Linked DNA regions of Homo sapiens. The protein of the gene in region 1 purifies or fractionates together with the protein of each later gene. This does not show direct contact. Each region holds a gene or a part of one and is shown in the gene's direction. Other genes may lie near its edges. The genes, in order: GTPBP4, PRKRA and MRTO4.

Evidence for each region.
Region 2: the proteins of GTPBP4 (region 1) and PRKRA purify together in Homo sapiens (affinity purification with mass spectrometry; 2 studies listed by BioGRID and IntAct, with this or other methods). This does not show direct contact.
Region 3: the proteins of GTPBP4 (region 1) and MRTO4 purify together in Homo sapiens (affinity purification with mass spectrometry; 4 studies listed by BioGRID and IntAct, with this or other methods). This does not show direct contact.

What each region holds. Positions count from the first base shown.
Region 1 is NC_000010.11:1,005,285-1,009,108, forward strand, and holds part of GTPBP4 (GTP-binding protein 4), read left to right. Parts: intron 1-533; coding exon 534-623; intron 624-1,733; coding exon 1,734-1,844; intron 1,845-3,673; coding exon 3,674-3,751; intron 3,752-3,824. UniProt on the Homo sapiens protein: Involved in the biogenesis of the 60S ribosomal subunit. Acts as a TP53 repressor, preventing TP53 stabilization and cell cycle arrest.
Region 2 is NC_000002.12:178,437,433-178,441,256, reverse strand, and holds part of PRKRA (interferon-inducible double-stranded RNA-dependent protein kinase activator A), read left to right. Parts: intron 1-1,013; exon of another isoform or gene 1,014-2,390; intron 2,391-3,824. UniProt on the Homo sapiens protein: Activates EIF2AK2/PKR in the absence of double-stranded RNA (dsRNA), leading to phosphorylation of EIF2S1/EFI2-alpha and inhibition of translation and induction of apoptosis.
Region 3 is NC_000001.11:19,254,805-19,258,404, forward strand, and holds part of MRTO4 (mRNA turnover protein 4 homolog), read left to right. Parts: coding exon 1-36; intron 37-1,143; coding exon 1,144-1,247; intron 1,248-2,259; coding exon 2,260-2,341; intron 2,342-2,649; coding exon 2,650-2,717; intron 2,718-3,028; coding exon 3,029-3,180; intron 3,181-3,600. UniProt on the Homo sapiens protein: Component of the ribosome assembly machinery. Nuclear paralog of the ribosomal protein P0, it binds pre-60S subunits at an early stage of assembly in the nucleolus, and is replaced by P0 in cytoplasmic pre-60S subunits and mature 80S ribosomes.

The sequences.
Region 1 (3,824 bases):
ACAGGCGGCCGCCACCACGCCTGGCTAATTTTTTATATTTTTAGCAGAGACAGGGTTTCACCATGTTAGCCAGGGTGACCTTGACCTCCTGACCTCATGATCCACCCGCCTCGGCCTCCCAAAGGCTGGGATTACAGGCATGAGCCACCGCGCCTGGCCCCTGGTGTTTTCTTTGGGCTGTATTTCATCGTCTTGCGTTTTTCTGCTCCCCAGGGTGCCTGTTACTCCTGTGATGCCCTCTGGAGCTCCCCCTCAGTTATTAACATGTAGTTGTTCGTTATTCTGATTGCCTTTGTTGTGGGGGACAGATGTGAGGGGCTACTAGTCGGCCATCTTTTTGATGTCATTTGTGTTTTCTTGATCATAGAAGAATATGAAGAAAATAACTGTTTTTAGGATATGTCTGTTTTTTAAGACTTTGAAACAACCACAGATGTTCACATTTGCAGCCTCCATTTGCAGAACTGTACAGTTTGTTCCATAGGGAACTGGAAATGAATAATACATCTCTCGTTTTTTCTTTGCATTCCCAGAAAATATTTACAGATTTGCAGTCTGAAGGATTCCCTGTAATAGAGACCAGCACCCTGACTGAGGAAGGTGTTATTAAAGTTAAAACAGAGGTCAGTGCTGCCTTAAGTCAGGTATTAGTCTTTTTACTGTCTCTTGTTTGATTCAAGTCAGTTGTGGGGAGAAAATAGTTTTCTTTCTAGACATTGTTAACACTTGGAGCCCTCGCAGTAGCGAGGCGGGTGGCGTGCGAGAGTGGGGCGTGAAGACAGACCCTTCTAAGACCCACTTTGCCCCCCGTGGACAGTGGGTTGTGAGGGGATGCTTTGCTCTTCTCACCCCAAACAACTTTACCCTAAAGCAGCTGTTGTCTCTGGCCTTTTAATATTTCGGTAGCAAGTACAGTGAAAATTATTTTTATGGAACCTGTTCGAAGTAGAAGGGAGAAAAGTCTGAAAAGCAGAACAGCTTTTGCAGGAGGCAGTCCGCTGCTGGATTTCACATGCTGTCCTAATTACTTTGTATTTCATGTTGTTTTTATCTCAAATAAAAGGACATTTCTGGCCAGGCGCAGTGGCTCACGCCTGTAATCCCAGCACTTTGGGAGGCTGAGGCGGGTAGATCACCCAAGGTCGGGAGTTCGAGACCAGCCTGGCCAACGTGGTGAAACTCCGTCTCTCCTAAAAATACAAAATTAGCCGGGCGTGGTAGCGCATGCTTGTAATCCCAGCTACTCGGGAGGCTGAGGCAGGAGAATCGTTTGAACCTGGGAGGCGGAGGTTGCTGTGAGCTGAGATCATGCCACTGCACTACAGCCTGGGCAGCAAGAGCGAGATACCATCTCAAAAAAAAAGATGGCACTCCTGATGCCATGGTCGCACTCAGGATTTAAAAAGATGGCACTCCTGATGCCATGGTCGCACTCAGGAATTTGTTGCTCGGTTAGAGTCCTGAGGGGCAACATTGCCTCCGGTTCGTGAAGGGCAGTTGGAGGGCACCGTCTGTGCAGAGGGTCACTGTGGTGGGAGAGAGGCCCAGGCACTGGAGATGCACCTTCCCTCAGGGCCGCTTCCACCTGGGCCTCAGAGAATGTGGCCCCCTACGTGTTAGTTACCTTGAGGGAAAAGGCTCAGTGGCTCTGATCTGTGGCTCCTCCTGGAACCTGTAGCTGGAGGCTGCTGGAGGATGCGTTTGTGACTGTGCCTTCTTTTTTACGTTATTAGGCTTGCGATAGGCTTTTGGCTCATCGAGTGGAAACCAAAATGAAGGGAAATAAAGTGAATGAGGTGCTGAATAGACTGCACCTGGCTATCCCAACCAGGAGGGACGATAAGGTAAGACGGCCCCTGGGACAGCCGTGGGCTCACAGTACTGTCAGCAGGTGCTGTCTGCGTGCCTTTTCCAGAAGCCTCCCATCCAGCTTCACACACTCGCAGGTGGATATTGTGGGTGGGCCTCAGTTTCACCTTCTTGCTTACATAAAGGATCGAGAAGGTGAAGAAAGTGCAGAACGCCACATGGCACCCGTTTCCCACTGCATGACGTGGTCACTGTTAGTTTATCCTTCCAGAAATGTTTCTGATATAGAAGATTAGTTTCTAAAAAGTTCTTTAAACACAGATGGAAATCTGTTTCATTCTTTAAATTTTCATTTTTTTGGCTGGGGGAAGTAGCTCACGCCTGTAATCCCAGCACTTTGGGAGGCCAAGGTGGGAAGATTGCTTAAGCCCAGGAGTTCTTGACCAGCCTGGGCAACATAGTGGGACCCTGTCTCTATAAAAAATAAATAAAATAAATTTTCATTGTTTTGTCCATTGTGAATGGGCACACATCGTTACGCTGTGTCTTCATGTTTTACTGCAAATGTGTCTGCACTTCACCATGTGGTGTTGACAACGTTCCTGTCCCACAGACGCCTTCCTGGTGTGTGCTGCACTGACGCTGGAGGCTGTGTCCTTCCCTCTGTCTTTCCTTGTGTCCTCGGCGTGGTCGGGCACTGACTGTCAGTCTTGTGTAAAGATGATTTTATTGTTGTGTGTTTATGTAATGCTGGGTGCGGTTGAGCATGTTTGTCTGCTTATTGGCCTTTTCAAAGTTCTTTAGGCTGTTTATCTTTTTCTCGCTGATTTGTTACTTTTGTATTACAAAGGTTGGATTCTTGTCAGATACATTGCAAATTTTTTTCTCTTTTTGTCACTTGCCTTTTTAACTTCAAATGTGCTGTACATTTTTGAACTATTAACATATATTAATTTTTTTTTCTGGGTGTTCAGGTTTGCATTGTACATAGAAAGGCTTACCATTCATTCCAAAGTCATTTTAAAAGTATCTTTTCTTGCTGGGTGCAGTGGCTCACGTCTGTAATCCCAGCACTCTGGGAGGCCGAGGCGGGTGGATCACCTGAGGTCAAGAGTCTGAGACCAGCCTGGCAATCATGGTGAAACCCCATCTCTGCTAAAACTACGAAAATTAGTCGGGCGCGCACCTATAATTCTACCTATTCAGGAGGCTGAGGCGGGAGAATCGTTTGAACCTGGGAGGTGGAGGTTGCAGTGAGCCGAGATCACTCCACTGTACTCCAGCCTGGGTGACAAGAGTGAGACTCTGTCAAAAAAAAAAAATTATCTTTTATACTAGCATTAAAAATTAGCTTTTTTGGATAGTCTTCACCGTGTCTTGAGTTGGTTATGTTGTGAGGGTGGAGGTTGCACTCCGTTTCAAGTGGTCGGCATTTCTGACCTGAGTATTGGAAATTTTATGTTTCCATTGAATTCTTATATGCACTTGAGTTTATGTCTAAATTTCTTTCATCTGTTGATCCAGTGTTATTTCTTACCACTTTCTTCTTCCATAATTTTTCATGATAATCATGATTTCTGTTTTTCCTGGATAAACTTTGGAATCACTTTGTGGAGTCCTCCTGGTCTCTGTGCTCAAAGTGACCCTGAACCCACTCCTCTCCCCTAAAATAATCTGTTGGTTGTTAATTGGTCTCGGTATGAACCCACTCCTCTCCCCTAAAATAATCTGTTGGTTGTTCATTGGTCTGGGTATGGTTTTCTGTTCCCCTTGCACGTAGGGAATTTGTTTCTACTTTTTCGGCTTTGTAAGTTTCTCATTCAGCAGGCATTTCACATAAATATTTTATATGGGATCTTCTCAGGAGAGGCCCCCTTTCATCCCTGAAGGAGTGGTGGCTCGCAGGAAGAGGATGGAAACTGAGGAGTCCAGGAAGAAGAGGGTATGCTGCCGAAGCTCTCGCCCAGTGTTCTCATGGGGGGAGGCAGGCTGTGTGTGCCCATCGTGGGGGCCTG
Region 2 (3,824 bases), on another chromosome or scaffold:
AAGTGTTGTGTTGGGTACTGGGGTGCAGTGAATAAGCAGTCCCTGCCTCTAAGGAGTTTATAGACTACTGAAAGGAAGGAATTCTATAGGCTAGTCCTTACAGAGTGTGATGTGGGAACATAGAAGAAGGCATCCAACAAAAACAGGTTTGGAGACAGATTCCAGGAAGAAGTAATGTCTAAGCCAAGACCTGTAGAATGGGGGAAAAGAATTCCAGAGAGAAGAAAAAGCGTGTGCAAAGGCCAGGAGTGAAACATCGTATGCAGTCTAGGAGCCCTAAGTGATTTGTTGTGTGTAGAACATAGTGTTGGAGGGAGGGAGTCTCAATGAGGCCAGCAAAGTAAAGAGGGATTAAATCTTAAAGGGACCCCTATATAAGGAAAGTGAACTTTATCCCAAGGGTAGTACAAAGTCATTAAAGAATTTTAATCTGGGAAGGACAGGATCTAGTCTATACATTACAAGGAAATCACTTGGCTGCATTATGGTAAGTGAGTGAAATTAGGATCAAAGAGACCTGCGAGAGTGCTGTTACAGAAGACACGTGAGACATGACAGCTTGAACTAAGGTAGTGGCTGGGAAAATGGAGAGAGATGGGTAGATTTTAAAGTTATTTAGAAAACTGAGGTAAAGGGGCATGGTAATTGATTGGATGTGGGAAGCAAGGGAAAGGGAGGAAATTACTATTTTAAACTTGGCAATAGCAAGAGGGGAGCAGATAATGAACTAAATATATTGAATTTGAAGTGCTTATGGAATAGCTTATGGAATAGCTAAGTGAATATATCGAGTAGCTGAACAAATAAATTCAGAGCTTAAGAGATTGGCCTACACATGATATATAACTTCAGATTCTGATATTCACAGATAGGTGTGTCATGTGGTACATTATCTGAGAGTAGTGTATTAGGTGGGAAATAAAAAAGTACAACTGTAGCAACTTCTTCACTGAGCTTATGATAAAATAAGGGCTCATTCTTTAGAAAAAAATCAAAGACTATATACAAATGAGTAATATAATTTGATTTTACATTTTTAATAGAAAAATATAAAACACTGCATTTACTGCTTTTGGAATTTGAGTCAACAGTATCACCAAAATTACAAAGCACAGACAGATTTACAGGTGAAATTGGTTAAATCTTCAAAGAAGAGATCATTTTCAATGCTATTTAAACTCTTTTCAGGCAATGTATAGATAACATAAAGGAAACTTTTAAATTTATTCTCCAAAACCAACATAATACACCAAAACCTGACAATAGCAAGTTCAACAGAAAAAAAAAAATTACAGATCAATATGCCTTATGGTGAAACACCTTTGTAAAATGTTCAGTACAATATTAAAATAATGATATAGCATTGACAAGTAGGGTTTATTTAACTAAGACTATTTCAAGGTTAATAAGTTGGTTACTTTAATTAACCACATTAATGTGTCAAAGAGTAATATATAATCCTCTCAATGGATGCCAAAAAAATTTTGATAAAACTCAGCAATCATTACTGATAAAAACTTGGAAAAAAACCAAAATCATGGTTATATATTTATACATTATACTCATTCCCATTAATATCAGAAATAAGGACGCCCACCAACACCACTTTTATTTAACCTTGTTCTAGAAGTACCCACCAATTAAAAACAAATTAGACAAGAGAAAACAGTACGAAGTTGGAAATAAGAGGAGATAAAATGGTTACTAACTGCAAATGGTATGATTGTATCCCTTTAAAACCCTAAAGAAAAACTACTAGAAACAAGAGAATTCATCAAGGTAACTGATTATGAAATTAATATACAAAATCAATAACTTTTCCATATTGCCCAGAGTTATGTAGGTAACAACCAGAATAATTAAAAATAAAAAGCTAAAAATTATTGTATCTGGGAAGGGGACCTGAAGGTGGAGAAGGGGCAAGGCAGAGGTTGTTGCTTTTATACTTCTGTACTATTTGATTTTTTGCTGTATGTGTGTATCACTTTGACAAAACTTACGAAGCTTCATAACATTGGTCATTTTATAGAAAAATAGAAAATCCTATTCTGAGAAAATATACTAGAAAAAAGTCAGTAGTTTTCTTATTTACAAATAATAACTAGAATATAGAAGATCCCAATTTAAATTGTAGACAGGGATAGGCTATATGAAAATAAACTTAGAAAGAAATGCGTAGGACCACGTGAGGAAAAGTCTACTAAAGAATAGAGCAGAAAACATTGTAAATATATTTAAATGTAATGTGGTCTCACTCAAAACCTACCAGCGTTTGGCCAGGCACAGTGGCTCACGCCTGTAATCCCAGCACTTTGGGAGGCCGAGGTGGGCGGATCATGAGGTCAGGAGATAGAAACCATTCTGGCTAACGCGGTGAAACCCCGTCTCTACTAAAAATACAAAAAAAAAAATTAGCCGGGCCTGGTGGCGTGCGCCTGTAGTCCCCGCTACTCCGGAGGCTGAGTCAGGAGAATGGCATGAACCCGGGAGGCGGAGCTTGCAGTGAGCAGAGATCCACGCCACTGCACTCCAGCCTAGGCGACAGAGTGAGACCCCAACTCGAAAAAAAAAAAAACCTACCAGCGTTCATTTTGGACCTTGATACACGTTTATTGAAGTTTATCTGGAAAAAAACCCTCAAGAATAGCCAAGAAAACTGAAAAGGAAGAGTTGGGAGAGCAAGGGTGTGCTGCTTTACTAGAGAACAAAACATACTGTAAAACTGAACTTGTCAGACAAGTTACTGGGCCAGGAATAGTCAGAGGAGCGAATAGAGAATCCAGGCGTAGATGCTAATCCACATAGGACCATAGTATATAGCAACAGTGAGATTTCAGATCAGTGGGTGAGAGGATGGATTATTCAATAATGATGTAGAAACAGTTTACATCCACATTTGGGTGGGGGCTATATATATATATTTGTTGATGTGTATGACATCTATTTAGAATGCTTCCTTATTCCTTACACCAAAGTGAATTTCAGATGGATCAAAGATTTGAACATAAAAATTTGAAACAGTATAAATATTAGGAAACATGGAAGAGTTTTTCTTTTTAAAAATCTTAGCATGGGGAAAGCATTTTAACTTAAAACCTAGGTTAAAAGATTAATACATTTGACAACATAAAACCTACTGCACAGCAAAAAATCTGTAAATTAAGACAATAAAAAAGTGGGAAGAAATTATTTTCAACATAGAACTATAAAGGAACTGTTTTCAGTACTACCTTTAAAGCTCTTTTGTACACATCTGCTGCACACAGCAGCACATGCCTGTAGTCCCAGCTACTCGGGAGGCTAAGGTGGGAGGACTGCTAGAGCCCAAGAGTTTGAGAGTTAAGCCACACAGCAAGATCCTAACTCTTAAAAAAGAGAAAATTTAAAAAGCTCTTATGCATCAGTTAAAAAGACAACCCAGTAGAAGAAATGCAAACGATTAAGGGAAAAAAAGAAAAAATATTCAACTTTATTCATGCAAGATAAAATATTTTCACCTTTTAGATTGGCAAAAACTACAAAATTTGATAATAGCTGGTATTAGTGAGGGTATGAGAAAACAAGCCCCCTCCAAGACAGTTGGTAGGAGTATAAATTGGTTCAGAAATCAGTTTGGAAGTATTTATCAAAATTAAAAGTGTACATGTTCTTTGACTTAGCAGTTCCACTTCTAGAAATAATTCTACAGAGAAACTCATTCAAGTGCAAAAGAGTGTTTATTGCTAGTAAAAGCAAGAAACTAGAAACAACCTAAAGCTCACAGTTGGAGATCCGTAAGGTAAATACAGTGCATATATGTGCACTGATAAAAGAAAAATGAACAA
Region 3 (3,600 bases), on another chromosome or scaffold:
AAAGGCTTGGAATTGAAACAAAACCTGATAGAAGAGGTAAGAGGTTGTTCTTTTCTAGAGCTTGCAATTGTTTGGTTTATAAAGGTAGGTATAGGACTGTTGGCCAGGGATAGGACTGTTGGCCAGGGGAACATACTAGTGGGGAAAAAAAAAAAATCTCCAAGCTGCCAATCCAGGCCTTTTTCCTCCAGCAGCAGCACCAGCAAAAACTTCCATAGTGATGATTTCCAGCTTTGACTAGCTCGTACTCTGTGCCCTGTCCTGCACTGTGTTTCTTATGCGTTGTTCCACTCCATCCTCATAACATCCCTGTGATGTGGGTACTAGGTGATGATGTTGCTGTTTTGCATTTGGGGTCACTGAAGCTTACAGAGATTTGTTAGCCTGCCTAATGTCAAAAAACAGGAGGCCAGGAATGGTGGGCCACGCCTGTAATCCCAGCACTTTGGGAGGCCAAGTGGGTCAGACAGCTTGAGTCTGGGAGCTCAAGAGCAGCCTGGGCAACATGACAAAACCTCATCTCTACAAAAAGAAAAGAAAAAAAAACTAGCTGGACGTGGTGGTACGCAGCCTGGGCAACAGAGTGAGACCCTGTCTTTAAAAAAAAAAAAAAAGAGCTGGGAGATTTACCAGGTGTAGGTGACTGCACCAACCCACTGTCTGTACAGCTTCTGACCTGCCAACCTGGGCTGCAGGCTGGGTGAAACAGTCTCCTCCTGCACAATGACTCCACTCCTAGAGGCTGCCTCATGGTGGCTTTGGCCAGCACCACGTGCAGAGCAGTACCGATCAGCTGCCTCCCCTTATAACAGAGAGGCTCCATGTGTTTCCATGTAGCAGGACCCTTCCTAATGTGGGTGAATGTTTCTAGGTTAACAGCTGATGATCAGTTCCACTGTTGGTCATAAATAAGTGAGAGACCTGGAAAAGGCCGTGGGGTGTAGATCCATGGCTCAGCCTCCCCTGTGGTTAGGGATCCTAATTTCAGTAATGGAGGTAGGAGACAACCAAATTAGAGGCCTCCAGTTCTTCCAGTTTCCATAGTTGTCAGGGGCCCAGAGCAGATTCATTCTCATCTGAGGCCAGAGTAGTGCCCGTTGTATGCTGCTGCTTGAACTCAGAGCCTCGTGAATTGTCCCACAGCTTCGGAAATGTGTGGACACCTACAAGTACCTTTTCATCTTCTCTGTGGCCAACATGAGGAACAGCAAGCTGAAGGACATCCGGAACGCCTGGAAGCACAGCCGGTGAGCGGGCAGGGGGAGGAAGGCCCTTCTGAGTGGGGACCCGGCCAGGCTGCTCTCAGTCAAAGCACAGGAGCAATTTCTGACCCTTTAGGTGCCTGGGTCATGCCGCTGACACCTTAATAAGGACAAAGTGCTACCTGCCACTGAAGAGCACTTCCTTTTCACTGTTAAAGCTGGTCTTGGGCAGGGTGCGGTGGTTCACGCCTGTAATCCTGGCACTTTGGGAGGCTGAGGCAGGGGGATCACCTGAAGTCAGGAGTTTGAGACCAGCCTGGCCAACATGGCGAAACCCCTTCTCTACTGAAAATACAAAAATTAGCCGGGCATGGTGGCAGGCACCTATAATCCCAGCTACTCAGGAGGCTGAAGCAGAAGAATCACTTGAACCCATGAGGCAGAGGCTGCAATGAGCTGAGATTGCACCATCGCACTCCAGCCTGGGTGACAGAGTGAAACTCCACCTCAAAAAGCAGATTTTGCACTGAGCTCCTAGGGGCAGGACTTGGCAGTTGCTCAGGAGATGTTTGAGAGGTGGGCCTTTCCGGAGAAGTGGCCCTTTAACCCTGGACTGTGGGCCATTTAGGAGCATCACACCAGTTTTAGAATGTCAGTAGGGACACTGCGACACAGACAGTGACCTGGGAGCAGGATGCAGGAGCCACATGGCAAGTTTCTGTCCTGGGGCAGGTGGCTCTGGTGGTGGTCTCTTGCCGCACCAGCTCTGGTTCAGGCTGTTAACATGCCTCCCGCATACATCCAGATAGAGAACTGGTACATGATGCTCGTGATGGGCTGGGAGACAAAATGTTGCCATGTCAGGAGTCTGTGGGTGGGAACATAATGAAAGGGACCCCAACGTGGGGACAGTGTGGCCAGGCAGCATGGAGAAGTGGGTGCCACTGGCTCAGCCTGGGCCTGAGCTCACTGGGGACCGGAGCTACTTTGCATGTTGCTGAGGGATGGGGAGGGCAGGGCTCTTCCTTCACAGAATGCTCTTTCTCTTGCTTGGTAGGATGTTCTTTGGCAAAAACAAGGTGATGATGGTGGCCTTGGGTCGGAGCCCATCTGATGAATACAAAGACAACCTGCACCAGGTAAGTCTCTGGCCCTCACGGGGTGGAGCTAAGGCAAAGCCGCCCTCTCTCCCACTACTCCCATGTGACAGCCTCCCCCAGCCATTGGCAGGCCGGAGGCTCAGGGAGAGCAGGGCCTGGCTTAAAGCTCTGGGTTCTCCCTTCACCTCCGGACCCAAGGAATAGCAGCTTCCTGCCTCCCACTCCTTCCTGCTATGACAACCAAAAACGTCTTTAAATGTTGCCAAATGTACCCGGTGAGCAAAAACGTGCCTAGTAGAGAACCACTGCTCTAATGTGACCAAGCTGTCCTCACTCCTGATTTGTAGGTCAGCAAAAGGTTGAGGGGTGAGGTGGGTCTCCTGTTCACCAACCGCACAAAGGAGGAGGTGAATGAGTAAGTACTGCTGAGGAACGGAGGGAAAGAGGCGGGTGAGAGGGGATTTCAGGGAGGGAATGATGCAGGAACTTCGTTCCATATGTGGCATCAAGTTGGAACTGCTCCTGGAAGCCTGTCACTGAGCTAGTGGCCTGGGACCACAGCCCTCTCTGTCCTCTCCAGCATGGTGCTCTGGGCTGGCTGCTGGCCAGCAGCCAAGGTCTGTGATGGGGGAAGGCCCAGGGCCACGGGACACTTGGGGGAGCCTGACTCATGGGCTGGTGGCGTGGCCAGGAGCATCTCCTCCTACCACTTCTCTTTTCCCTTAGGTGGTTCACGAAATACACAGAAATGGACTACGCCCGAGCTGGTAACAAAGCAGCTTTCACTGTGAGCCTGGATCCAGGGCCCCTGGAGCAGTTCCCCCACTCCATGGAGCCACAGCTCAGGCAGCTGGGCCTGCCCACCGCCCTCAAGAGAGGTATGGGCAGCCCTGGAGCCAAAAGGTCACAGCCTAGAGTCCAAGAGCACGGGCCTGCAAGCTCATCCCTTTCTAGCTGAGCAAGTTATTTCTACAAGCTTCCATTTTCTCATGAGAAAATGGGGCTAAGAGTGCATGCCTCACAGTGGGGGTGAAAGCAGACAGTAACTTACAGCCAAAATGCAGCCCTTGAGGCCCATCAGGGGCCTTGCGCTTGTTTAAAAAAAAAAAAAGTCAAAAAATTAGACAGCCATGGTGGTGTGTGCCTGTGGTCCTAGCTACATGGGAGGCTGAGGCAAGAGGATCACTAGAGCCCAGGAGGTCGAGGCTGCGGCAAATCAAAGGGACCTCAGGGAGACAGCCACTGCCCAGTGTGTGTTGGAGCCGTGGGGAGGGCAGGTGGCTGACTGGATTCCTCCC